Linked DNA regions of Homo sapiens: regions 2 and 3 are each linked to region 1. The links come from fine-mapping of genetic effects on gene expression. A gene starts in region 1. Each other region holds a variant in brackets. All regions are shown on one strand. Distances are between the middles of the regions. Region 1 holds the start of DCAF15 (DDB1 and CUL4 associated factor 15). Region 2 overlaps RFX1 (regulatory factor X1). Region 3 overlaps RFX1 (regulatory factor X1).

Evidence for each region. PIP is the estimated chance that this variant, and not a neighbour inherited with it, causes the effect.
Region 2: its variant is fine-mapped to the expression of DCAF15 in tibial artery (GTEx, PIP 0.94). The same link has a PIP of 0.9 or more in atrial appendage.
Region 3: its variant is fine-mapped to the expression of DCAF15 in whole blood (TOPMed, PIP above 0.99).

The regions. Positions count from the first base shown.
Region 1 is chr19:13,945,814-13,956,281 of GRCh38, reverse strand. DCAF15 (DDB1 and CUL4 associated factor 15) reads right to left here and starts at 3,773. Exons shown (of 13, transcript NM_138353.4): 1 at 3,638-3,773; 2 at 1,845-1,942; 3 at 1,621-1,756; 4 at 264-370; 5 at 20-159. The coding sequence starts at 3,769. It also overlaps a transcript of PODNL1 not described here. RefSeq lists a silencer at 3,551-3,690 and an enhancer at 4,351-4,400.
Region 2 is chr19:13,972,579-13,980,578 of GRCh38, reverse strand. It overlaps RFX1 (regulatory factor X1), which reads left to right. Exons shown (of 21, transcript NM_002918.5): 6 at 1-6; 7 at 1,037-1,132; 8 at 2,493-2,587; 9 at 7,452-7,836. Among named protein-coding and RNA genes, the nearest start is that of DCAF15, 24 kb to the right of the region's middle. RefSeq lists enhancers at 1-25, 26-552, 553-1,079. The variant A/C (reference allele first, on the strand shown) is at 3,934.
Region 3 is chr19:13,982,537-13,990,536 of GRCh38, reverse strand. It overlaps RFX1 (regulatory factor X1), which reads left to right. Exons shown (of 21, transcript NM_002918.5): 3 at 6,942-7,051; 4 at 7,267-7,350. Among named protein-coding and RNA genes, the nearest start is that of RFX1, 20 kb to the left of the region's middle. RefSeq lists enhancers at 2,623-3,513, 4,329-4,378, 4,405-5,296, 7,055-7,581. The variant G/A (reference allele first, on the strand shown) is at 3,899.

The DNA.
Region 1 (10,468 bases):
GCCCCCTCGGCCCCCTCACCTGGGTGGGCTCGGCTGGCATCCTGGCAAGCAGCACAGCGGCCTGGCGGTGGCACGGCCACGGTGCTGACGTAGATGTCACGGTGGTTCTCGTCACTCATCATCATCATGTTCATGAGCATCCCGTTGGCCGAGCGGGTGCTGGGGGCCAGCATACCCTCAGCTGCCTGGTCGGCGCCTGGGGGGCCCCCACTGCACACCCCCTGCCCCAACCAGCCAAGGCTCCCCCAGGCGCCTGGTCTCACTTGAAGCCGAAGACGATGACCTTGGAGGCGTCGCTGGGCCACTCGCATACGGTCAGGTACAGGTCGCTGTAGATCTCCTCGTCCTGGAATAGCCGAACCTGCCGGACCTGTGAGGCACGTTCAGGGGCAGCACCGGGTCAGGGAAACTGCGGAGGTCCCCCGAAGCTGTACGATGCAGTCCCTCATCAGGGCTGGGGCTGAGCGGGTAGGAGCACCCCAACAGCACCCGCCACACCCCTCCACCTTGCCTGAGGACAGCCGTGGAGGCTCCTTTCACCAGTCGGGGAGACCAGGCCAGGGTGGGATGCAGCCGATGGGAACAATGTCCCGGGGGAGACTGCGCCAGGCACTGGTTCCAAGCCCAGCCTACCCTGAAGCCCGTTCAGCTCTCTGAGTTCACATGTATGCTGAGGTAACAGCACACCTCCTGGGGGGGTTCCAGGAGTCAAGGGTCAAGGCTAAAGCCAGGGTGGCCTGGTCCTAATAAAGCTAACTGGCCTGAGCCAACATGTTCTACAGCTTCATAGGGTGTGTTGAACCAAATGGAATTGCTGCTATTTACCCATTTTGAACCATAAAAATGGTAATTTCTTTTTCTTTTTTGAGACAGAGTCTTGCTCTGTAGACTGGAGTGCAGTGGTTCGATCTCGGCTCACTGCAACCTCCACCTCGCAGGTTCTAAGCGATTCTCCTGCCTCAGCCTCCGGAATAGCTGGGATTACAGACATGTGCCACCATGCCCGGCTAATTTTGTATTTTTAGTAGAGATGGGGTTTCACCATGTTGGCCAGGCTGGTCTTGAACTCCTGACCTCAGGTGATCCACCCACCTCGGGCTCCCAAAGTGCTGGGATTACAGGCGTGAGCCACTGTGGCCAGCCTTCATTTGTTTTGTTTTGTTTTGTTTTGTTTTAGAGACAGGGTCTCACTCTGTTGCCCAGGCTGGAGTGCAATGGTGTGATCATGGCTCACTGCAGCCTCAAACTCTTGGGCTCAGGTGATCCTCCTGCCTCAGCCTCCAGAGGAGCTGACTACAGGCACACGCCAATATGCCCAGCTAATTTTTTTTTATTTTTAGTAGAGACAGGGTTTTGCCATGTTGCCCAGCCTGGTCTTGAACTACTCGGACCAAGTGATCCTCCCGCCTTGGCCTCCCAAAGTGCTGGGATTACAGGTGTGAGCTACCATGCCAGGCCCTGGTAATTTCATATGGTTGGATCTAACACATGGAATCTTGATGATGACCCCAGGAGTACATGATGATCATTTTACACCCAAGGAACCTGAGGCTCAGAGGTTGCTGTGACCTGCTGAACCACACCATCTGAAGGGCCAGCCTGGTGTTGAAGCCTCCCTACCAGCTTGAGCTTGCTGTGAACGTTGAACTCCCACCAGTACAGATGGTAGATGTAGAAGGAGAAGTCGTCATCCCCACTGCTGCTGGTGTAGGAGAGGACGTAGCGGCCGCATTTGGAAAAGCCCAGGAAGATATGTCTGTGGGGGTGGAGGGGGCACAGCGGCCAGGTCAGGGCGAGCCCACCACTCCCGCCCACCTGCCCCCTTTGCCTGGGCCCAGCCTCACCCTGCATAGAGGAAGTCCTCATCCACAATGTTCTTGAGGGACACGCACACCCGGGGAGGCAGCTTCCGGAAGAGGCGAGGGGAGAGCTGTCCGCTGATCTGGGGAAGGGGTGGCCAGGGCACTTCAGGCACCATCTGCAGCCCCCAGCCCCCTCACCCACGGCAGAGAGGCAGAGCGGCTCTCACCGGGTCCAGACCGGCCCAGCCCACCATAATGGTCAAAAGAAGGCCAAGCTCTGGAAGGTGGGAACAACTGAGGCAGATGGGGACAGTAAAGCCAGATGGACCGCGCTTGAGCCTTCATCTCCACCAGGGACCCAGGCCACCTTCCCAGTTCCATACCTCTTCAGCCTCAGGTCCCTCTTGACTGAGCCCAGCGTCACCGCCCCCAAGAAAGTTCCCCAATCACCCTGTCCCACGCTGGGCCACCTGCTTCCCTCCCTGAAGGCTGTCCCTAAGCTGTGGGTATTTATCCTACTAAGGAGGCTGGGACAGAGTCCTGACCTGCACCCATCTGTTCCCAACCCACCAGCCTTCAAACAAGGGGGCTCCTCCTCCCCGGGGCAGCTCTGGCCTCTGCTGGGGGCCAGTCGAGGCAGATAGAAGGGTGAGCCTAACCAATGACCCAACGCCCCCTTCCCAATTAACTACCGCCTTCCAACGGAATCCAAGGGAATCCCTCATCCCCAAAACTTCACCGCGGAAGGATCTGCGGGGACTGACAGGCAGAAGCCAGGCACAGGGATATCCGAACAGCCTCAGTCTTGCTACCCAACTCTGCCTTCAAGACATTCCAATCTGATGGGAAGAGTCCTGTCTGGGAAGCTCCCTGTCTGATGGGAGACAGCCCTGTCCACATGGAGGTCTCAGTCTGACGGAGGAAACAGCCTGGCCAGCCAGGCCCAGGCCGACAGGGGAGACACAGTCCCTGCCCAAGGAGCTTCCAAGCTAAGGGCGGAACCACAGCCAAGCCCAGGGAGCTCCCAGGCTAAGGGCGGAGACTGTCCCAGCCCAGGGAGCTCCCAGTCAAAAGGGGGAGACACAGCACTGCCCTTACAAAGCTACCAGCCTCACGGAGAAGGCGCAGTCCCTGTCCACAGAGACACAGCCTTGCCCCAGTTACTGCCCACCTGCAAGAGATCCACATTTCTGCCCTCCAGAGCTCCCAAACTGATGGGGGAGAGAGACATCATCCCCCAGCTCTGGGAGTTTCCAGTCTGATGGAGGAGACAGAGCCTGCTTCGGTAACTCTCACTCTGCGGGGGAAGACTCAGCCCTATCCAGGGAGCTCCCACACTTTCAATGGGGAGGCCCACCCAGGTACTGGAACTCCCAGCTCATGTGTGGTCGGGGCTTGGGCAGGGAGAGGAACATCAGGCGGAGGAAGCCCAAAGCCAGCGGCAGGGGCTCTGCAAAGGGGGCGGGAAGGTTCCATTATGGAGCAACCATGGGAGCAGAGCTTTGAAAAGCCTGGATCGCCCCCTTCCTCCTGATTCTCCCTGCGGCCTCTGGGGTCGCCTCCCTCCGAGCCCCCTCCCTGGGGCCCCGCCCCCAACCCCCTCCATCCCAGCCCCTTTGCCGGTCACCCGACACAACCACCTGCATCCAGGCCCCCAACTGAGCCCCCTCCATCCAAGCCATCTCCCCCGGGCCCCGCCCAGGCCCTGCATCCGAGCCCCCTCCCCTGGGGCCCCGCCCCCAACCCCTCACCCCGCGAACGCCCTCCTCCCTCCGCCTCCCTCGTCCCTACTCCCCACCCTCCGGCGCGCTCCCCACTCCGGCTCCAGGCCTCACCTTGACCCGCTCCAGCTGCTTGAGGACGTGCTCCCGCCGCCGCCCTGCTGCCCGCTTCCCTCCGGCTCCCCCGGGGCCGCCGCCGCCGCTCCCAGCCCCGCTGTTCCGCTCCGATTTCGAGCTGGGCGCCATTTTCACCCCCTCCCTCCACTTCCGGAGCAACCGGCCCCTTCGCCCCACCCCTGCCGCCTCCTCATTGGTCCTTTTTCGGGACAGCGGCCCGCCGGTTGGGCGAAAGCCCGCACTCGCGCTATGCCTGTCCATCAAAGCCATCTCGACTCTTGATTGGTAGCGACAGTAACAGCCCCCGCGGCCCGTTGCCGTATTCCCGCCCCGCCTTAAGGACGTACCACTCGGAGGTCCCGTTTGTTCGCCCTGCCCAGATAACTTTGATCTGATAGGTGAATATCTCTGTCTGTCTCAACGGCGTCACGCCCCCTGTGGCTGGCGGGTTTCCATGGAGACCACAGGCGGTCCAGGCCCTTGGGCGGGGCGACGGGAGCCTGTGGTCCACCAAGGCTCGAGAATCCTCAGCCCCGGGCTGCCCGCGCCCGGTCCAGGTGGGCAAAGGCCTGACGAGCATACTTGGGCGGCAGAGCCAGGCCGAGGAAAGAGATTTACAAAAAAGGAAAAAACGATGGGATTCGATGAAAGCTTGTTTCCGATGGGCGGGTTGGTGGGATGATGGTGGTGATAATGATAGCATCAATCATGGATCGCTCCACATGTGACAGACACGGTTCTGAGCTTAAACAGTTCGATGTGGCAGGGCCCTGTTGTGCCAATTATGCAGATCATAGCAATAAAAATAATTGTTGAAGGTCCGCTCCGTGCATCATATTCGTATACATTACCTCATTTATTTTATTTTTTTAGACAGAGTCTCACTTTGTCACCCAGGCTGGAGTGCAGTGGCGTGATCACGGTTCACTGCAGCCTCGACCCCGGGCTCAGATGATCCTCTCACCTCAGCCTCTCATGTAGCTAGGACTACAGGCGTGCGCCACCACGCCTGCCTAATTTTTTGTATTTTTAGTAGAGACGAGGTTTCACTATGTTGGCCAGGCTGGTTGCGAACTCCTGACCTCAGGTGATCCGCCCGCCTAGGCCTCCCAAAGTGCTGGAATTACGGGCATAAGCCACCGCGCCCGGCCTAATTTTTTGTATTTTTTGTAGGGACGGAGTTTCACCAAGTTGTCCAGGCTGGTCTCCAACACCTGGGCTCAAGTGATCCTCCCACCTCTGCTTCCCAAAGTGTTGGGAGGACAGGTGTGAGCCCCCACCCCTGGCCAGCCCATTTAATCCTCTGAACAATCTAGAAGATAGTTTTTTTTTATTGTCTTCATTAAAAAAATTTTTTTTGTAGAGATGGGGTCTCACTATGTTGCCCAGGCTGCTCGAAAACTCCTGACCTCAAGGGATCATCCCGTCTTGGCCTCCCAAAGTGCTGGGATTACAGGCATAAACCACTGTGCCCAGCTGATTTCAAGGGTTTTAGGAGTTATGTACTAGAAAACCTAAGACCAAAATATGGTTTTTTAAAAATATATCACAACACAATATCACAACATATCTTTTTTTTTTTTTTTTTTTTTGAGATGGAGTTTTGCTCTTGTTGCCCAGGCTGGAGTGCAATGGCACAATCTCAACTCACTGCACCCTTCACCTCCCGGGTTCAAGCAAACGATTCTCCTGCCTCAGCCTCCCAAGTAGCTGGGATTACAGGCATGTGCCACCATGCCCGGCTAATCTTTGTATTTTTAGTAGAGACAGGGTTTCACTATGTTGGCTAGGCTGGTCTCAAACTCCTGACCTCAAGTGATCCACCCACCTCACCCTCCCAAAGTGCTGAGATTACAGGCGTGAGCCACTGCGCCCGGCCATCACAATGTATCTTTAGCCAAAGGTTCCCCTGCTTCTTGCATACCCTACGTCCATGGAGAGCAAAGCTGTCTCCAAGACAGTGGGGACACCTGGCAGCTACTGCCTTAACCAAGTGATCAAAATCAACATCACCAGTGATAAGTCATACTGACATCACGGACCCCAGCTATGTGATAGGGAGGACATTTGTAACTGTCTGATATTATCCCCAAACCTAGAACCTCAATCTAACCATTAGACAACATCAGACATTTATCCCAGATTGAAGAAGGTTCTCAAAATACATGACCAGGCCAGGTGCGGTGGCTCATGCCTGTAAGCCCAGCACTTTGGGAAGCAGAGGAGGGAGGATCACTTGAACCCACGAGATCAAGACCAGCCTGGGCAACATGGCGAAACCCTCATCTCTACAAAACATCAAAGAAATTCACTGACTCTACTGGCACACGCCTATAGTTTCAGCCACTCGGGAGGCTGAGGCAGAAAGATTACTTGAGCCCAGGAGGTCAAGGCTGCAGGGAGCTATGATGGTGCCACTGCACTCCAGCCTGGGAGACAGAGCGAGACCTTGTCTCAAATAAAAAACAAAACAAGGCCAGGCATGGTGGATCACGACTGTAATCCCAGCACTTTGGGAGGCTGAGGTGGGCAGATCACAAGGTCATGAGACTGAGACCATCCTGGCTAACACAGTGAAACCCCGTCTCTACTAAAAATACAGAAAATTAGCCGGGCCTGTAATCTCAGGTGGCACACGCCTGTAGTCCAGCTTCTCGGGAGGCTGAGGCAGGAGAATCACTTGAACCTGGGAGGTGGAGGTTTCAGTGAGTCGAGATCACGCCACTGCACTGCAGCCTGGGTGACAGAGCAAGACTCTCAAAAAAAAAATAAATAAATAATTTAGCGGAGTGTGGTGGCGTGAACCTACAGTCCCAGCTACGTAAGAGGCTGAGGTGGGAGGATCACCCGAGCCCTGGAGGCTACAGTGAGCGGAGATTGAGCCACTGCGCTCCAGCCTGGGCGACAGAGTGAGATCCTGTCTCAAAACAAAACCCAAAACCCAAAACCCAAAAAACATTAGAGGAAATTGAGTGAAGGGAATAAAAGAACTCTCTGTACCTTCTTTGCAGATCTGAAAATGTCTAATTTCAGGCTGGGCACAGTGGCTCACACCTGTAATCCCAGCATTTTGGGAGGCTGAGACAGGAAGATGGCTTGAGAAGAATTTGACCAGCCTCGGCAACTGTTAAGACCTCGTCTCTACAATGAAAAAACATTTTTTTTTCATTAGTCTGGTGTGTGGTAGCACGTCTGTAGTCCTATGTACGTGGGAGGCTGAGTCGGGAGGATCCCTTGTGCCCAGGAGTTTGAAATTACAGTGAGCTGTGATGGCGTCACTACATTCCAGCCTGGGTGACAGAGCAAGACCCTGTCTTTAATAATAATAATAATAAAATTACAAATAACAAAAATAAAATAATGTTGTTTCAAAATTCAAAGGGGCCAGGCACGGTGGCTCACATCTGTAATCCCAACACTTGGGGAGGCCAAGGCGGGCGGATCACTTGAGGACAGGGGTTCAAGACAAGCCTGGTCAACATGGTGAAATGCTGTCTCTACTAAAAATACAAAAATTAGCTGGGCTTGATGGTGGGCTCCTATGATCCCAGCTACTCAGGAGGCTGAGGCATGAGAATCGCTTGAACCCGGGAGGCAGAGGTTTCAGTGACACAGAGCGTGACTCTGTGTCAATAAATAAACACATAAATAAACTCTAAGTTTTTAAAAGAGCATGGGGGAGGATTTTTTTTTTTTTTTCTGAGACAGAGTCTCACTCTGTCACCCAGGCTGGAGGACTGTGGCACCATCTTGGCTCACTGCAACCTCCTCCCAGGTTCAAGTGATTCTCCTGCCTCAGCCTCCCAAGTAGCTGGGACTACAGGCGCCTGCCACCATGCCTGGCTTTTTTTTTTTTTTTTTTTTTTTGTAGAGGCAGGGTTTCACCATGTTAGCCAGGACGGTCAGGATGGTCTTGATCTCCTGACCTCGTGATCCTCCCACCTTGGCTTCCCAAAGCGCTGGGATTACAGGCGTGAGCCACCACACCCGGCCAGGAGGATGTTATTATGACTGCTATGTGCAGAATGGTCTTGGGGGATGAGGATGGGGGCAGGAATAGTCTTGGGGGAGCCAGGAGGGTAGGTGATGCTGACTTAGATTAATCTACTAGCATTGAAAATGGAGAATACGGCCGGGCATGGTGGCTCACACCTGTAATCCCAGTACTTTGGGAGGCTGAGGCAGGTGGATCAGGAGGTCAGGAGATCGAGACCATCCTGGCTAAACATGGTGAAACCCCGTCTCTACTAAAAATACAAAAAAAAAAAAAAAAATTAGCCGGGCGTGGTGGCGGGCGCCTGTAGTCCCAGCTACTCAGGAGGCTGAGGCAGGAGAATGGCATGAACCTGGGAGGCAGAGAGCTTGCAGTGAGCCGAGATTGCGCCACTGCACTCCAACCTGGGCGACTGATCAAGACTCCGTCTCAAAAAAAAAAAAAGAAAAGAAAAGAAAAGAAAATGGAGAATATTGGCCGTGGTGGCTCACGCCTGTAATCTCAGTGCTTTGGAAGACCAAGGCAGGAGATGGCTTGAGTGGGAGGATTGCTTAAAGTCTCCCTTGATCCCCGGAGACCAACCTGGGCAACATAGTGAGATCCCATCTCTATAAAAATTTTAGAAATTAGCATGAGGGCCTGAGCCTGTACTCCCAGCTACTTGGGAGGCTGAGGTGAGAGGATCGCTTGAGCCCAGGAGTTCAAGGCTGCAAGTGAGCCATGATCGCACCACTGCACTTCAGCCTGGGCAACAGAATGAGACGCTGTCTCAGAAATAATAATAAAAATAAAGAAAGAAAATGGAGAAAAGTGGCCATAGTCAGAGCCGATGGGGTCATTTTCAAGGACAAGATATTGGGATAGGGGCAAGGAGAGAGAAGTTAATGATGACTTTAGCATCTGAGTGGAATATTTAGCAAAATGTTAGTGCCATTTTTTGATATGAGGAAGACTAGGGAGAAGTCAGTTTGGCCCAAGTCAGTTGAATACGTACATGGGACAAACAGACTGTTTTTCCTTCTATATCACATCACTCTCAATCCTTCGCTTCTGACACCAGATGATGGGGCAGCTTCTCCCAAATCAAGTAATTCCCCAATTCTTGGTGGACACCAACATGATGTCCTGCAATTTACCTCAATTCTTTTTTTTTTCTTTTTTTTTTTGAGGTGGAGTTTTGCTCTTGTCACCCAGGCTGGAGTGCAATGGTGCGATCTCAGCTCACTGCAACCTCCGTCTCCCGGGTTCAAGTGATTCTCCTGCGTCAGCCTCCCAAATAGCTGGCATTACAGGCATGCACCACCAGGCCCAGCTAATTTTTGTATTTTCAGTAGAGACGGGGTTTCGCCATGTTGACCAGGCTGGTCTTGAGCTCCTGGCCTCAGGTGATCCACCTGCCTTGGCCTCCTAAAGTGCTGGGATTACAGGCATGAGCCACCATGGCCAGCCTTTTTTTTTTTTTTTTTTTTTTTTTTTTCTGAGATGGAGTCTTGCTCTTTCACCCAGGCTAGAGTGCAGTGGTGCAATCTTGGCTCACTGAAACCTCCGCCTACAACAATTATTATAAAGGTGTTTTTATGGTGTTTTTTTTTTGTTTTTTTGTGTTTTTTTTTTTTTGAGACAGGCTGGAGTGCAGTGGTGTGATCATAGCTCACTGTAGCCTCGACCTCCCAGCCTCACGCAATTCTCCCACCTCAGCCTCCCGAGTAGCTGGGACTACAAGTGCGTACCACCACGGCCAGCTAATTTTTGTGTTTTTAGTAGAGAAGGGGTTTCACCATGTTAGCCAGGATGGTCTTGATCTCCTGACCTCGTGATCCGCCCACCTCGGCCTCCCAAAGTGCTGGAATTACAGGCGTGAGCCACTGCACCTAGCCAAGATTTCCCATATTTCTGATCGTTCGTCACTTGGACTCTCCCTTAATACGTATATGTATTTGTTTACAAATAACCCAACTATACAGGTGCATTTAGACCACTCTTTCTAGCCTGTGAATTAAATCATACCTGGAAAAGGGCCATAAAACAGGATGGGGCAGGTAAATAGAACTAGAAATTATGATTCATTTCCCACACCCAACTTTGGAGACCAGTGGCTTTGAACACAGAAAGCCTTGGGCTCAATTTTCCTTGTGGTCCTAACTCCTCATTGCTTCCTTTTTACAGGTCATCCCACTTTTATGCAGTAGTGATAGAAACTCAATTTTTTTTTTTTTCCAAGACAGAGTTTTGCTCTGTCACCCAGGCTGGAGTGTAATGGCTCGATCTTGGCTCACTGCAACCTCTGCCTCCCAGGTTCAAGCAATTCTCCTGCCTCAGCCTCCCAAGTAAGCTGGGATTACGGGTACCCACCACCACGTCTGGCTAATTTTTGTATTTTTAGTAGAGACGGGTTTCATCATGTTGGCCAGGCTGGTCTCAAACTCCTTACCTCGTGATCCGCCCACCTCGGCCTCCCAAAGTGCTAGGATTACAGGCATGAGCCACTGTACCCAGCCAAGAAACTCCATTTTTATCTGAACATGTGGCTTCCCAGTAGAAAGATGGTGTTTCTCATCCTCCCTTGAAGTTAGCAGTGTGTATCCACCATTTCCTTTCTTTTCTTTTTTAGAAACAGGGTCTTGCTCTGTTGCCCAAGTTGGAGTGCAGTGGCACTCCACCCAGGCTCAAGCAGTCTTCCCACTTCAGCCTCCCAAGGAGCTGGAACTACACGCATGCACCACTGTGCCCAGCTAATTAAAAAGTTTGTTTTTTTTTTTTTAATGGAGTCTCGCTCTGTCGCCCAGGCTGGAGTGCAATGGTGTGATCTCGGCTTACTGCAACCTCTGCCTCCC
Region 2 (8,000 bases), 26 kb before region 1:
CAAGAGGTGCCAGGCCAAGGCGGGCAGTGGCTCGGTCCAGGGGTACCGGCCAGGCAGCCTCTGCAGCCCCCCACGGCTGTGCCTCTGGCCTATTAGAGCCCAGCCCATGTGGGTCCAGCCCCAGCCTGCCACCCTGGCCTTTGATAAGCATCTCTGCCTGTCTCCAGACTCAGCATCCTGGGGCTAGAGGATGGGGGAGCCGCGGGGAGGACGAAATTTGAACCTCCTGGAAGGAGACTGGGGCGTAGTGGGCCATGGGAACCGCTTGGAGAAGCCACCTGAGCCTCTTTGGGCCCATTTGCCTGAAGGAAGCCCCGAGGCCACATCCTGGCTCCTTCTGGGGAGGATTTCAGGGAGGGGACCCAGCCCCCAAATCCACACCCAGCCTCTGCAGGAGGCAGAGCCCTGAGCCGGCGCAGGTTAAGATGCTGGGGCTGCGCACCATCTGGTTGTTACCACTGAAGTTGAGGGGGTTCCAAGCCCCTTGAAAAAACAGATGAAATCCATAGACCCTTCCCCAAGTGTAAACAGAAACCCTGTCCCAGAGGTTTCACAGATACTCCCCCGCCTGGCACTAGAGCCCCCCCGAACCTCCAGACCTAGGTCCAGGCCCCAGCTCCTCCACTCAGCACCCTCCTCCGCCAGCCTCCGTCCCTGGCTCTGCGCCCCTAGGATAATCCCCGCATGCCCGCCACAGCACAGAACAGGGCACACAGTTGACATTGGGGGGTGTGGGGACGAAAGATAACCCAAGGCCTTGCCTGCGGGTTCTTGGCACAGCTTCAGGGGCCCGTAGGGAGAGGGGGCGGAGAGCAGAGACCCCGAAGTTAGTCCCAGGTTCAACTCAGCCCTGCTGCTTCCTGGGAGCCTCACTTTATCAGTAATGGATCCAGCACCCTCCTTGCTTGGCTGGAGAATGGTGGCCTCTTGCTTATGGGTCTGCTGTGAGCTTTACAGAAGCTCACCTGTGCAGGGGCTGGGTAGGTTGACGGCCATCGTTGCCATGGTCATCTTATTGTTGCCTTTCCCCTCCCAGAGATCTGTGGTCCAGGCCACTCCACAAGCGCCCAAACCCGGCCCGGTGCAGCCGCTGACCGTGCAGGGCCTCCAGCCAGTCCACGTGGCTCAAGAGGTGTGTGTCTCCCCCTCCTACCCCACGGGCAAAGGGGCTGGTCCCGGGCTGGGGCTGGGGAGTGCAGGCCCCTGAGGCCGCAGGGAGGGAAATGCCTCTGTGAGCTGCAGACACTGCCCTACATCCTTCCCCTTTCCCGGCCCCCTGGCAGCTCAGGGTCCAGGTTTTGCTAAGAGAGATCTGGATTCAAACCCCTCTTCTTTCTTGCGTGGCCCTGGGTCAGTTCTAACCCCTCTCCGAGACCCCGGGCGGCGGGGATCTTCCCTCGGGTGGCTGCGTGCGCGCTCAGCAACCCGGTGGGTGGAGGCCTGGAGCCCCGCCCGCGGCCGCCCCCGTTGACCCCCCAGTGTCTCTGTTTGTCCTCCAGAGCTCAGGCAGTCAGTTTCCCGCTAGGAAGGCAGAGCAGCGAGATCCCCGGCCCACGCCGCCGCCGGAGCCGCCGCCCCGGCCGCCCGCGTGCAGCGGCGAGGCCCCGCAGCTAGGCAGCCCCGAGCCGCCGCCGCCCCATTACGAGCCGGGCGCCGAGCAGTGGGTGGAGCTGGTGGGCGTGCTGCCCCCACACCTGCTCCTGCCGCAGCAGAAAGTGGTCTTCGAGCCACTGTCCCGGCTCCCGGCCCGAGCCAGCCCCGACCAGAGGGTCAGGATCCAGAGAATCCCCCAGGTGCTAGTGTTCGGCACGGCCGCCACGGCCCTCAAAGTAGGTGGCGGACGCACGGGCGGGGGGCAGCGGGCGGGCGGGGGCGGGGGCGCCCAGTCTGGGCCGCCCACCAGGCCCCGCAAGCCCTGTAGACCCCACCTCCGCCCGACGGGTCGGTCTAGGGACCCGCCTCTGACTCCCCACCCAAGCCCCGTCCAGGTCCCAGCTCCGCCCCTGCAGACAAGGGTGGGGGATGGAGGTGGGGGACTCAGGCCCCGCCCCTAAGGCCCTGTCAGTGATTCCAGGTTCTGTCCCACCAACCGGGGCCCCAGGCTCCGCCCCTCACATCCTGTGCCCGGTTTCCAGGCCCCACCCCTGAGGCCCTTTCTGTAGCTCCATGGCTCCAGCGATAGCCTTGCCCCTGTGCCTGGGGTCCAACCTTCACGCCCACTACAGGACCCTGTCTCGGGTCCCCTCCACTGTCCGTCAGGCCCCACCCTTGCTGGCCCCAGCCGAAGCCGAGAGTCCTGGCTTCTCCTGACACAGCTCTTCCTGATTCCCAGCCCTGGCCTCCTCCAGGGTGTTTTGTTGAGAGTCCAGAAGCCACCCTTGGGTCCGGGAGCTGGGCGTCAGGGATAGCCTGGGTGGGCACCAGCCCTTTAGAGGGAGAACCGTAGGAGCTGGCCCACCCCTGACCCTCCACGTGCCCTTCCTCTGCCCCAGGTGCAGCAGCTCCAGCAGGTGCCCGTCCCACACGTGTACTCCAGCCAGGTGCAGTATGTGGAGGGCGGCGATGCCAGCTACACGGCCAGTGCCATGTAAGTGAAGGGAGAGGGGTGGGTGAGGGAGTCAGGTCTGCACTGGAGCCTCCCCAGTCTCCCAGGACACCAGTCCCCAGTCCCAGCCCCCAGCAGGCCATCCGGCCTTCAAGGCCTCAGGTGACAGACACACAGGTGGGCACTCCCCAGGGGCAGCCACAGCCACGAAAAGTGGCGAAGCAGAGGGACCCTTGAAGGTTGGGAAAGGCACCCCGGCATAGCTTAGGGCTTGGGAGTCAAATGAGCCTGGTTTTTAACCAAAAAAAAAAAAAAAAGGCCAGGCACGGTGGCTCACGCCTGTAATCCCAGCACTTTGGGAGGCCTAAGCGGGCAGATCACTTGAGGTCAGGAGTTCAAGACTAGCCTGGCCAACATGGTGAAACCCTGTCTCTACTAAAAATACAAAAGTTAGCCAGGAGTGGTGGCAGGCACCTGTAATTCCAGCTACTCGGGAGGCTGAGGCAGAAGAATTGATTGAACCCAGGAGGCGGAGGTTGCAGTGAGCTGAGATCGTGCCACTGTACTCTAGCCTGGGCAATAGAGTGACACTCCATCTCAAAAAAAAAAAATCATTTGACTCTCAACCCTGTCCCAGAGAGGATGCTGTGACCTGTTTCTTTGTTTCTTTCCAGAGATACTCTAAGAACAGAAACTCTAGCCCTCTATCCATTTTTTTCTTTTTTTTTGTTTTTTTTTTTGAGATGGAGTCTTGCTCTATCGCCAGGCTGGAGTGCAGTGGTGTGATCTCGGCTCACTGCAACCTCTGCCTCCTGTGTTCAAGTGATTCTCGTGTCTCAGCCTCCCGGGTAGCTGGGATTACAGGCACACACCACCACACCCAGCTAATTTTTGTGTTGTTAGTAGAGATGGGGTATCACCATGTTGGTCAGGCTGGTCTTCAATTCCTGACCTCGTGATCCACCCGTCTCAGCCTCCCAAAGTGCTGGGATTACAGGCATGAGCCACCGCACTGGACTTTTTTTTTCTGTTTTTTTTGAGACAGGGTCTCACTCTGTCGCCCAGGCCAGAGAGCAGTGGCGCGATCAGGGCTCACTGCAGCTCACGGGCTCAAGCAATCCTCTTACCTCAGCCTCCCTAGTAGCTGGGACTACAGGTGTGCACCACCATGCTCAGCTAATTTTTGTATTTTTGTAGAGATGGGGTTTTGCCACGTTGCCCAGGCTCATCTCCTCGAACTCTTGGACTTAAATGATCCTCCCGTCTTGGCCTCCGAAAGTGCTGGGATTACAGGCATGAGCCACAGTGCCCAGCCTCTACCCGCTTTCTGTGGTCAGAAATAGACGCAGGACATTCCATCCATACCTTATTTCTTTCCTGGCTCTTCT[A/C]CCATGTGTCCTCGTGGGTCCTGGTCACCCTCTTAGCTGCTGTGTAATAACCCCTGTGCAGATGCAGCAGCCACGATGTCATCAGTCCCCACCCAGTGATGCATAGGGGGCTTCTTCCCCTCCCTGGGTACAGCACTACCATTCCTGTGTATGGGCCGTGTCAGGCAGGGGCCACGTCCTGGCCCCGCTTCAGTCCCGGCTCGGGCTCCTCGCCGGGGGTCCTCCATGCCACCTTCCCTCTCCCATCTCCACAGAAATTGCTGCAGTACTAGAGTTACTGTTGGTTTAGTTTCCAGAGGTTTCACTTGGTTTTCTTTGCATTTGCATGATTTCTTTTTTCATCCCTGCCACTTGTTCTTCTGGGGACAATGCTGGGATTGGTTAGCTCATGGATCGACTTAGTCCTAGGGTCATGATGCTCTGACCGACCCCAGTGGGCCTGGTCCAGGCATCTAAATCGTGAGGCTTGGTCCCCGGCGTCCGGCTACCTCACAGTTCCATTTGTTTCTTTCCAGTGCTGCTAATCTTTTCACTGTGTGGTTGAGCCAAGCTGGCAGGGGCCAGACAGGGCATTGCAAAGAGGAACACGGTGTCCAAGGGTTCCTGCTGCCATCCCTGGTAGCGTCTCTCCTGTCTCTCCTTTGCTTCTGTCTGAATTCCTCTCTCAGTGATCATAGTGTGTGTGATTGCACCTAGTTCATCGTTGCTATCGGGTTTTTCTGCTACGAGAAGTTGTTGGGGGCCACTCCTGCTGTCAGCTGCCCACCCCTTCTGTCTCTCCCTCTGAGTGAATTACTGCGAGTTCCCGACCCTTTGCCAGCCCTATCCCCACCCTGGCCAAAGCCACAGCCCCTGGGCCTCCATCCCTGGTCCTGTTCTGGGGGGCATCCAGAGCTGCACACATTCATTTATTCAGTCATTCAGCAACCATCTACCAAAGCAACCTTTTTGCAGCACACATTGCATGCTGGGTGTGCAGGAGTGAGCAGGCTGTGGCCCCCGCCTTGGAGAAGTAGGGGCTCTTGCTCAGGTCATGTGCTCTTGGTGTCACTTTGTGTGGTAGACATAGGGCAGGACAGAGAGATCGAGAGCTGGACCTGATGTGTGACAAAGACCATGCTTCCATATCTCCTTCCACTGTCCCCCTCAACTCCCTCTCTTTGTTCACCCACAACCACTCGGGCCTGTGCGGCTCCCTCCCCTGCCACCTTCAGAGTCTGAGCCAGGCCACCTCTTGACTGACCACACTGTCTTTCTGGATGTTTAATTTTTTTTTTTTTTTTTGAGATAGAGTTTCCCTCTTGTTGCACAGCTGGAGTGCAATGGTGCAATCTTGGCTCACTGCAACCTCCACCTTCAGGGTGGTTCTCCTGCGATTCTCCTGCCTCAGTCTCCCGAGTAGTTGGGATTACAGGCGCCCACCACCACACCCGGCTAACTTTTTGTATTTTCAGTAGAGAGAGGGTTTCATCATGTTGGCCAGGCTGGTCTTGAACTCCTGACCTCAGGTGATCCACCCGCCTTGGCCTCCCAGAGTGCTGGGGTTACAGGTGTGAGCCACCGTGCCTGCCCCTGCCCCCCTCCCTTTTTTTTTTTTTTTTTGAGGTGGAGTTTCACTCTGTCACCCAGGCTGGAGTGCAGTGGCATGATCTCAGCTCACTACAGCCTCCACCTCCCAGGTTCAAGTGATCCTCCTGCCCCAGCCTCCTGAGTAGCTGGGACTACAGGCGCCTGCCACCATGCCTGGCTAATTTTTGTATTTTTAGTAGAGACGGTTTCACTATGTTGGCCAGGCTGGTCTCGAACTCCTGACCTCAAGTGATCCACCCGCCTCGTCCTCCCAAAGTGCTGGGATTACAGGTGTGATTACACTGCACCTGGCCTAATGCTATGTTTTTAATCACTAGTACATTGAAAGAGTTCAAAGATCAAAACTATGTCCAACGATGTTTAGCGAGATGGTGAGAGGTGCCCCCTGCCTGTCCCCCTCGACGGAGCCCTCCATGCCCACAGATGACAGACACGCATGCCACATGCAACGCATTCTTCCCTATTGTTCGGTCACACGGTCCCCACTCTTCTCTGCCTCTTATCTGCCCGGTGTTAGGTTCTGGAGCTTGTTCTTTCGGGGGACGACAAGCCTTGCCTCCTTCTCTTTCACCCCTGCATAGGATTCCATCATCTTTTGTTTAACAGCCCCTTGAGGTTGAACCCCTGGTGGTTTTTATACTTGTATACTTGTGACGATTTGCAGCCTCAAGCCTGTGTCACCGGTGCCCATCCCGTCACGCGATATCTGAAGGAGAGAGGCTTCCCCAGCCTGGGATAGGTAGCTTGGCTCAGGGGAAACATATCTGCATTCCTGATGGTCTTCTCCAATCACAGCGTCGCCTTCTCTAGTCCCTTCCAATCACAGCATCGCCTTCTCTAGCCCCACCCCCTTCCTGCTTCACTCACTGCCTGATCACCTTCTGTTATGATCTCTCATTTACCTTTGCACGTGGCTTCTTGCCTGTCTCCCCAACTAGACGGTTCCGGGGGCCGGGGCTTTTCATTCTTGTCCATTGCTGTGTCCAAAGTGTGTGAAACAGTGCCTAGCACACAGTAGGCACTCGAAGTACTTGCCAATTTTATTTTTTTAATGAAGTGTGTAGCATTCCAAGTTCCCTAACCCTTCGGTATTTTTTTTTTTTTTTAATTAAAAAGACAGGGTCGGCCAGGTGTGGTGGCTCATGCCTGTAATCCCAGGACTGTGGGAGACTGAGGCGGGTGGATCACTTGAGGTCAGAAGTTCGAGACCAGCCTGGCCAACATGGTGGAACACCAACTGTACTAAAAAAATACAAAAATTAACCTGGTGTGGTGGTGAGCCCTGTATTCCCAGCTCCTTGGGAGGCTGAGGCAGGAGGATAGCTTGAACCCAGGAGGCGGAGGTTGCAGTGAGCCAAGATTGCGACACTGCACTCTAGCCTGGGTGACAGAGCAAGACTCTGTCTCAATAAGTAAATAAATAAATAAAATAACAAAAATAAAAAGCCAGAGTCTCACTGTCACCTAGGCTTTGCTGCAGTGGTAGTATGGTTATAGCTCACTACAACCTTGAACTCCTGGACTCAAGGGATCTTCCTGCCTCAGCCTCCCAAGTAGCTGGGATTGCAGGTGTGCACCAGCATGCCTGGCTAATCTTCATATTTTTTGTAGAGATGGGTTTTCACTATGTGGCCCAGGCTAGTCTTGAACTCCTGGCCTTCAACGATCCTCCTGCCTCTGCTTCCCAAAGTGCTGGAATTACAGGCAGGAGCCACCATGCCCAGCTGATGATTATATGAAATACTGCCCATCAAGCACTCAGGATGGTACCCAGTCCGTTGTAGATGAATGCTAGGATCTGCTCCTTGCTGCAGGGGAGCTGCTGCTTCCCCAGTCCCCTCCTAGGACCCCCCTTCCTGCACAGTCATGCCCCTCGGCCCCCCAGTTCTCATCCCCCTGACTCTCCCTTGGCTTTGCCTCTTTCCCAGCCGTTCCAGCACCTACTCCTATCCCGAGACGCCGCTGTACACGCAGACGGCAAGCACCAGCTACTACGAGGCCGCAGGCACGGCCACCCAGGTCAGCACCCCCGCCACCTCCCAGGCGGTGGCCAGCAGTGGCTCCATGCCCATGTACGTGTCCGGCAGCCAGGTCGTCGCCAGCTCCACCAGCACTGGGGCTGGGGCCAGCAACAGCAGCGGAGGTGGTGGCAGTGGTGGTGGCGGCGGCGGCGGGGGAGGCGGTGGCGGGGGTGGCAGTGGCAGCACCGGAGGCGGCGGCAGCGGAGCAGGCACCTACGTGATCCAAGGCGGCTACATGCTGGGCAGTGCCAGCCAGTCTTACTCTCACACCACCCGTGCCTCGCCAGCCACGGTAAGTGCCCCAACGCGGGCCCCAGAGGAGGCAGGCAGTGGTGGGTGGTGGGCACTAGAAGCCCAGTCCATGACGGTGGTTACCAACCACCGCTAGCAGGAGCCTGTGTGGCCCCCAATGAAGAGAACATATGCAGATGTCCTGGGATTGAATGCTGTGTGGCC
Region 3 (8,000 bases), 35 kb before region 1:
CTAATCTTTTAATTTTTTTGTAGAGACAGAGTCTCACTATGTTGCCCAGGCTGGTCTTGAACTCCTGGCCTCAAACAATTCTCCCACTTCAGCCTCCCAAAGTGCTGGAATTACAAGTGTGAGCCACCGCGCCCAGCCAAGCCCCCATTTTCTCCAGGAACCTCCAGCTGCTGGACCCCCTGCAGCTGGCCCCCTTTTTCCCAAAGATCCCCTCTTGTGAGGCCTCCAGGAGCCCACACTGCCCTGGTCTCCGCCCACCGCCCGCAGCCCCTCCGTGGTCCTCTCTGCTGCTTCTCCCCATCTCCCTGACCTTGTCAGCAAAGGACGGGGAGCCCCAGACTCAGACCTGGGAACCTCTCTTAGCTCCTGTAGTTCTCCCTTAACGATGGCCTCATCCTGTGTCCCAGCTCTCATTACCCACACTGAGGTCTCCAGCCTGGGCTGCAACCCTGAACCGCAGGACCCCACATCCAGCCCCTCCTGACTCATCCACTTGGTGTTGAATTTGATGCAGGCCAGTGCAGCCACATTGAATTCTGCATTTTTCCCTCTTCAAATCTCTCCTTCAAGGCTTTCTCATCCTCCCAGGCCCACGGTCAGTCTTGTTTCTGTCCTACTCCTCCTTGAGTAAGACCTCTCGGCTCCACCTCCTAAACTCTTCCAGAACCCCCCCCGCCTCTTCCACTTCTATGACCCCAATCCTGGTCGAGCCTCCGCCCTCACAGTCTGACCCCTCCCAGCAGCCAGAGGGAGCAGGTTCACAACTGTCCATTAGGTCCCGTCACATCCTAGCTCAACCCTGATGGCTCCAAGCCAGGTGGTTCCATGGGCACTCTTTGAGAAACCCCAGCCTAGGCTTTCTCAGCTCTGGGAGAGCAGGCTCCTTCCCCTCCCCCGATACCTGACAAAAAAGGACTTTAAAAGCTACACACACAGACACACACTCTCTTTCTCTCTGTCTGTCTGTCTGTCTGTCTGTCTGTCTCTCTCTCTCTCTCTCTAAGCTGGGTGTGGTGGTGGGCGCCGTAATCCCAGCTACTTGGGAGGCTGAGGCAGGAGAATCGCTTGAACCCAGGAGGTGGAGGTTGCAGTGAGCCAAGACTGCACCATTGCACTCCAGCCTGGGCAACAAGAGTGAAACTCCGTCTCAAAAACAAAAAAACAAAAACAAAATGCAAAAATGCTCCACACACCCTGTGCCCCTACTAGCAAATGTCAAGCCCCTTCAACTCTGGCCTGCCAGCCTCCCAGCCTCGCCCACTTCCACCCATCCCCTCACATACCTGGTCCAGCCCCTCTTGCCTTCCTACAGCTCCACAAACCCGCCAGGCTCAGTCCTGCCTCCTGACCTTTGCACTCTCGGTACCCTCTGCCAGGAGCACTCCCTGCCCCAGACCCTCTGGGAGCTTGCCTCTTGTCTCCCTTAGGTCGCTGCTCAGACACTACCTTTCTGACTCCACACCTCCCTGCCCCTACCCCCATTGCTCACTCTCTGTCTTCTTGTTTGTTTGTTTTTGAGACAAAGTCTCGCTGTGTCACCCAGGCCGGATGCAGTGGTGCGATCTCAGTTCACTGCAACCTCTGCCTCCTGGGTTCAAGCGATTCTCCTGCCTCAGCCTCCCGAGTAGCTGGGATTACAGGGGCGCACCACCACACCAGGGTAATTTTTGTATTTTTTGGTAGAGATGGCGTTTTGCCATGTTGGCCAGGCTGGTCTCAAACTTCTTACCTCAAGTAATCTGCCTGCCTCGGCCTCCCAAAGTGCTGGGATTATAGGTGTGAGCCACTGCGCCCCGCTGGTCTTCTTAACACTTAACACTACTTGAAGTTACAATAATGGGATGGTGGGGGTGCCCACCTGCAGGCAGGGCTCTGTCAGTGCTCAGTCTCTGTGGAATGACTGAGGAGCACCAGCCTGACCCAGAACAGCCTAGAGGAGCACCTAGCACAGCCATCATGTCCCATCAGCTCCTGCATGGCTGACTGTTTGCAGGAGGCCTCGCATGTCACCAGTGGATGGCTCTGCTTGGCGCCCAGAGTGTCTGATGGGTCCTGATCCACGCCCTGGGTGTGGGTCTTACCTGCTTCAGGGTCCAGGCTCCCTAGAGCCAGGGTCTGGAGTGGGCACACAGCTCCAGGCTCCACCACTCCCCAAGTCCTTCCACTCTTGACCTTGGCTTCTCCAGCTCTTCCCGCACTCCCTCAGGGGGGCCCTGGTGCTTCAAAGTCAAGACCAAGTCCCCGCACTTTGGGAGGCTGAGGCAGGCGGATCACCTGAGGTCAGGAGTTCAAGACCAGCCTGGCCAACATGATGAAACCCCGTCTCTAATAAAAATACAAAAATTAGCCCGGCGTGTTGGCGTGTGCCTGTAGCACCAGCTACTGGGGAGGCTGGGGCAGGAGAATCGCTCGAACCTGGGAGGTGGAGGTTGCAGTGAGTCGAGATCATGTCATTGCGCTCCAGCCTGAGTAACAGAGCAAGACTCTGTCTCAAAAAAAAAAAAAAAAAAAAGAGCAAGAAGTCAAGAGCAAGTCAAGAGCAAGGCATGGTCTTTGGGTCAGACAGAGCTAGGCCGGACTCTAAGTAGCTGTTAGGCATGGGGAGGTGGCCTCTGTCTCCCCCATCTTGGTAGTGTTCCCAGGAGGGTACTCTGTACCCATGAGGGCAGGCTGTAGCAACCCTGCTGTCCACAGAACTCTCTGGGGCTCACTTTGGTCAGGCGGTAGCTTAGTCGCCTTTCACAGTGGTCCCAGGGAATTTCATTTCCCTGCCACTCCACATTCTGGCAGGTGCCAGCCTGTCCCCAGAAGGGTCACTGGGCAATGCTTCCTGGATTTGTTCTGAGGAAGAGGAGGTTGGCTTGTGCCCTGCCAGCTGTCCCCTCCCCCACCCCTTGCAGTAACTCCCCAGCCTTCCTCCCTGACCCTCTGCCAGGTTAGCGTCCTTCCTCATCTAAGGGTGGCCGGGGCCACGTGAGCGCCGGGGAAGCAGGAGTAACTGACACCAGTGAAGGCTGCCACAAGGCACCTAGGACTTCTCCCAAGCCAGGAGCAATCGGAGCTGACCAGGGACCCAGGGAGGTGGCAGGGAAGAGGAAGGGAGGGGCCTGGACCCAGACTTGGAGCCTGGGGCTGGACACCAGCCGACACCAAACCAGACACAGCTCACCCAGCCCCGGTCCCTGCCTGCCCTGCCTAAAGGTGACTTTGGAGGTGGTAGGAAGGAAGATCAAGTTTCCCTGGTCAGGAACAATACTAGATCCATAAATCCCTGTCCTCAGAGGCCATCAGACTCTCCCAGAACCCAAGGCGGAAGGAGAGTGCTGTGGGCTCTGGCAGCCACTCCTGGGAAGGTGAAACCGAGCCGGCCTGCAGGGAACAGGGGCCGCCCCGAAGGAGGGGCCGAGTCCGGCCCTTCTTCCCTGCTTCTCTCTCACTTGGAGTTCTAGGGGGGCCAAGAAGACTTGTGTCCAGACAGAGAAGTGGAGTGTGTTTGTCAGCATTCCCAAGCACAGATGGGGAAACTGAGGTTGGAGCAGACAAGGGATAGAGGACACTGGGGGCAGCAGGGGCCCCTCCAGGAGCCCCTGACTGACATCATCCCAGGGAGCCCAGGGGCAGGAGGCAGAGGGTCAGGTGGCCCCATCTGTCTATGGGGAAGGGGGCCAGGCCCCCAGGGTGGATGCCAGGAGTCCAGCCTCTAGGGCCTCCCCTGGGCTCCCCCAAGTAGCTCATTTAAGGTTTGAGTAGGTCTAGATGGGGAAGTGCGGGGCCCGGGGAGGATGGGTGCCCACTTGTCAGAGTCATTCCACTGCTCAGAGATGTTAATGTGTCAGATTCAGAGACAGGAAATCGGCCGCCGTTTCCTGAGACAGTGGGGGCCTCCCTGGCCTCCTGC[G/A]CATGCCCAGAGTGGCGATCTCCGGCAGATAGATGCAGACGCTCGCTCGCAGACTCAGTGCCACCCCCCACTTCCCCTCCTGGCTTCTCCTCCCTGAAACACAGCGAGGGCCAGACCCAGTGGTGGAGGGGCCCTGCCCCGGCCGCAGGCAGACAGGGATGGCTGCACAGGAAGCCCTCATCCGCATGAGTCACTCAGGCTCACCTGTTAGCCTCGTGGCGCATCCCCTGGCGCCCTCCTGGGCTGGCAGGCGGGGTCCCAGCCTTGAGGGCTACCCCAGAGGCAGGAGACGGGCAAGGCTGCTTCCTGGAGACAGCCACCTGGTCTCAGCAGGTCCCCAGGCCTCCTCCTGCTGTAGGTCCTGCTCAGCGACCAGCCCCTGAGCCCTGGAGAGGGTGGGGGGCCAGCCCCCCACTCCCTGCCCACCTTGAGCTTCCTGGGTGAGACACCATCCCTTAGGCTGGGCCTGAGTCCTTGGACCCCACGGACCCAGGTGTGCAGTGCCGGTCACATGACTCGGGGCTGTCTCGGGTTTCTCCCAGGAGGGGCCCTCTCAGCAAGGGCCTCCTCCCTTATGGCTCAGGGCTGGGAAGCCTAAAGCAGATGCCAGGGAAGATTCCAGCAAAACACAGGGATTAGGGCCTGTGGAATTGGCTGCACAGGTAGCTGGTCAGGCAGGCATGGGATTGACCAAATGCCCCACAGCCCACATGCGGCTACGCGGAGGCCTCCCCCAACACCTCCCACATCTGGCAACCCCCGCCCCCAACACACACTCCTGCGCTCTGCCCTTGACTTGGCCTTTGCATCTGCCCTGAATAGCCCTCCTGCCCTGTCCAGGCCCCTCTCCCTCCTGTGCCCTGCCTGGACAGCCGAGACCCAGTCTGGATACTTCAGACTTTGAGGGGTCCCCGTAGACCCCCAGCTTACTTTCCTTCCTGTGCCCATATACCCAAGTTCACACATCACTGCCCTTGGGGCGCAGCCCAGGCAGAACCAGTGACTCCGGTTCCATATGTGGTATGAGGTTCGTGTGGGCCCAGAGGGGAACCTGCGTCATGGCCTGCACGGTGGATGGTGCATTTGACCTTGGACAGATCACTTCCTTGCTTCTGGTCTCTGTTGCCTTGTCTGAAAATGGGTAATAAAAGCTCTTACTGTCAGCCAGGTGCAGTGGCTCATGCCTGTAATCCCAGCACTTTGAGAGACCGAGGCGGGCGGATCACTTGAAGCCAGGAGTTCAAGAGCAGCCTGGCCAACATGGCAAAACCCCGTCTCTACTAAAACCACAAAAATTAGCTGGGCGTGGTGGCGGGTGCCTGCAGTCCTAGCTACTCAGTGGGTTGAGGCAGGAGAATCACTTGAACCGGGAGGCGGAGATTTCAGTGAGCAGAGATTGCGCCACTGCACTCCAGCCTGGGCAACTGTGAGACCCTGTCTCAAAAAAAAAAAAAAATCCCGGAAAGCTCTTACTGTCAGCCAGGCACAGTGGCTCACGCCGGTAATTCCGGCACTTCGGGAGATGGAAGCAGGTGGATTGCTTGAGTCCAAGAGTTCGAGACCAGCCTGGGCAATATAGCAAGACCCCAGTCCCTATTAAAAATACAAAAATTAGCCGGACATGGTGGTGCATGCGTGTAGTCCCAGCTACTTGGGAGGCTGAGGCAGGATAATTGCTTGAACCCCAGGGGACAGAGGTTGCAGTGAGCCAAGATCGTGCTACTGCACTCCAGCCTGGGTGACAGAGCGAAACCCTGTCTCAAAAAAACAAAAAAGCTCTATCTCTGGCTGTCCAGAGTCTAACATAACACCTAGTGTGCCAGAAGCAACACTAGTGTCTGCAGTGATAACTCCTTGCCCGTGGCCCTTCAGTCCTGCCGGGGGTCGGATAAACCCCTCTAAATCCCCAAGAAAGGTGGGCCTGGGACCTTGGCTCCTTGATGGTGGAGGAAGGGCAGGTACATGTCCACCCCCAGCCCCACCTCGGCCTCTGGAGCTGCTGGGGGTATGCCAGGTCACATGGAGGGGATGGGATGGATGGTGTCCCAGCTGGGGTGAGGGTCTTCTAGCCAGCGCCTCTTGGGAACACTCGCCTCTACCCCCAGCACCCCTGCTAATCACTCAGCAAGATGTGCATGAAATTTGACCTGTGCCTGCCTGATAGCATCTCCGGGTACCAACCTCCCTCCTCACCCCGCAGCGCTGCCCCAGCCCCGCGAAGGCCCCGCTTTGCTGGGGAGGGGAGTGTTTTTCCAAGAGGGCAGGCAGGCTCTCTGCATCCACCGGGGGGATTAGCGCCCCAAGGTCGTGGGTATAAAGCCACCTGCACACCCTGCTGTTCTATAGAGGCAGGCAAGGAGCAAAGAGGGCCAGGCAGGCCCCCCTGGACGGACAGGCGGACGGGGTGGGGGGCGGGTGGGGTGGGGGAGGGGATGAGCACCATGTTCTATGATTGTCTCTTCTCAGCTGCCTGTCAGCGTGAGTACCTGCCTCCCCCACTCCAAGCCCCTTGTGGTCCCCACCCCACTGAGGACAGAGGGGCAGGGAGGGAGGACTTGGCCACAGGCTAGCAAGACCTTCCAGGGACCACTCCTCCGAGCAGCTTCCACTCCCGGGAAGCCAGGGTCACCCCAGAGAAGGTGGCCCCAGCACCTCGATCCTTCCAGCGCTGCCAGGACCCTGGAGTGGACAGTCAGTTCCCTGCCTGTCCACAAGTCCCGTCTGCTGGGAAGGGTCCAGCCTTCTGGGTTTTGAGCATCATAGCTCTTCAGTCACCCTATCTGGTCTGACTTCAGGATGAGGAAAGCTGATGAGGGCTGCTGCCAGGTATTAAGGATCCTGGGTCCTGCAAGCCTCAGCCCGCTCTGCCACGTGGGCCCCTGATGGGTGCAGTCAGGGCTGGCCAGGGGGAAGCAGGACTCTTGGAGGGGCCTGACCTTGCTGGGGGTTGGCTTCAGGCTGCATCTTCCCCTCCAGGGGGGCTCAGGCTTAGGCTGGGGGCAGGGAAAGCAGGAAGAACTGACCTGGTGGCCCCTCCCCACAGAAGGTGCCATGCGGGCCAGCGAGACAGTGTCGGAGGCCAGCCCCGGCTCCACCGCCAGCCAGACCGGCGTTCCTACTCAGGTGGTTCAGCAGGTGCAGGGCACCCAGCAGGTAGGATGTGGCCCTCCCAGGGGGTGGGGGAGGGCCCGGGAGGGGGGCAGTGCAGGCTGCGTCCTCGGGGGCCTCACCTCCCCTCCCCGCTTCCTGCTGGAGCCATCTGCTCACCTGTTCTTATCAAGATGTGCACAGCAGCCGCCCGCCACCCAACCACGCCAGGCCTCCCTGGGGGAAGTGGCAGCTCAGCTCCTCCTGCCTTGTCTCCACAGCGGCTGCTGGTCCAGACGAGCGTGCAGGCCAAGCCAGGCCACGTGTCGCCCCTCCAGCTGACCAACATCCAAGTGCCCCAGCAGGTAATGCTGCTGCACCTGGCCACCACCCTGGAAGGCTCCCTCAGGGTGGAGGACCAACCCCCTGTGGCAAGCCTGGATCTGTCCTCACCAGGATGGAGGGAAGAGTCCCCATCCAGGGGCTGCCCTACCTCCTGGCTCTGGGCAGTCACCTCCCCAGGGTGAGACTATCCGGCAGGGGCCATCAGGGACAGAGGAGCTGCAGGAGCCATCTCAGCAGAGAGAACAAGATGTATAGTTGGGAAGGTGGTTTGCGGGTCCAACCCAGTGTCCCGAAGCAGAGAACCCAAGGCCAGGTTTAGAGTCAGGAGTCCACAGCCAGCACAGGGTGGTCTGTCCCCCAGAAGGCTGCGCATGAGGTGCCGCGCACACCCGTTTCCGACTGATCAGCGCAGATCTGGACAAAGTACTGTTGGGTTTTACAATGGCTCGATCTCGGCTCACTGCAACCTCCGCCTCCCAGGGTCAAGTGATTCTCCTGCCTCAGCCTCCTGAGTAGCTGAGACTACAGGTGTGCACCACCACACCTGGCTAATTTTTGTATTATTAGTAGAAACAAGATTTCACCATGTCGGCCAGGCTGGTCTCGAACTCCTGACCTCAGGTGATCTGCCCGCCTCAGTCTCCCAAAGTGCTGGGATTACAGGTGTGAG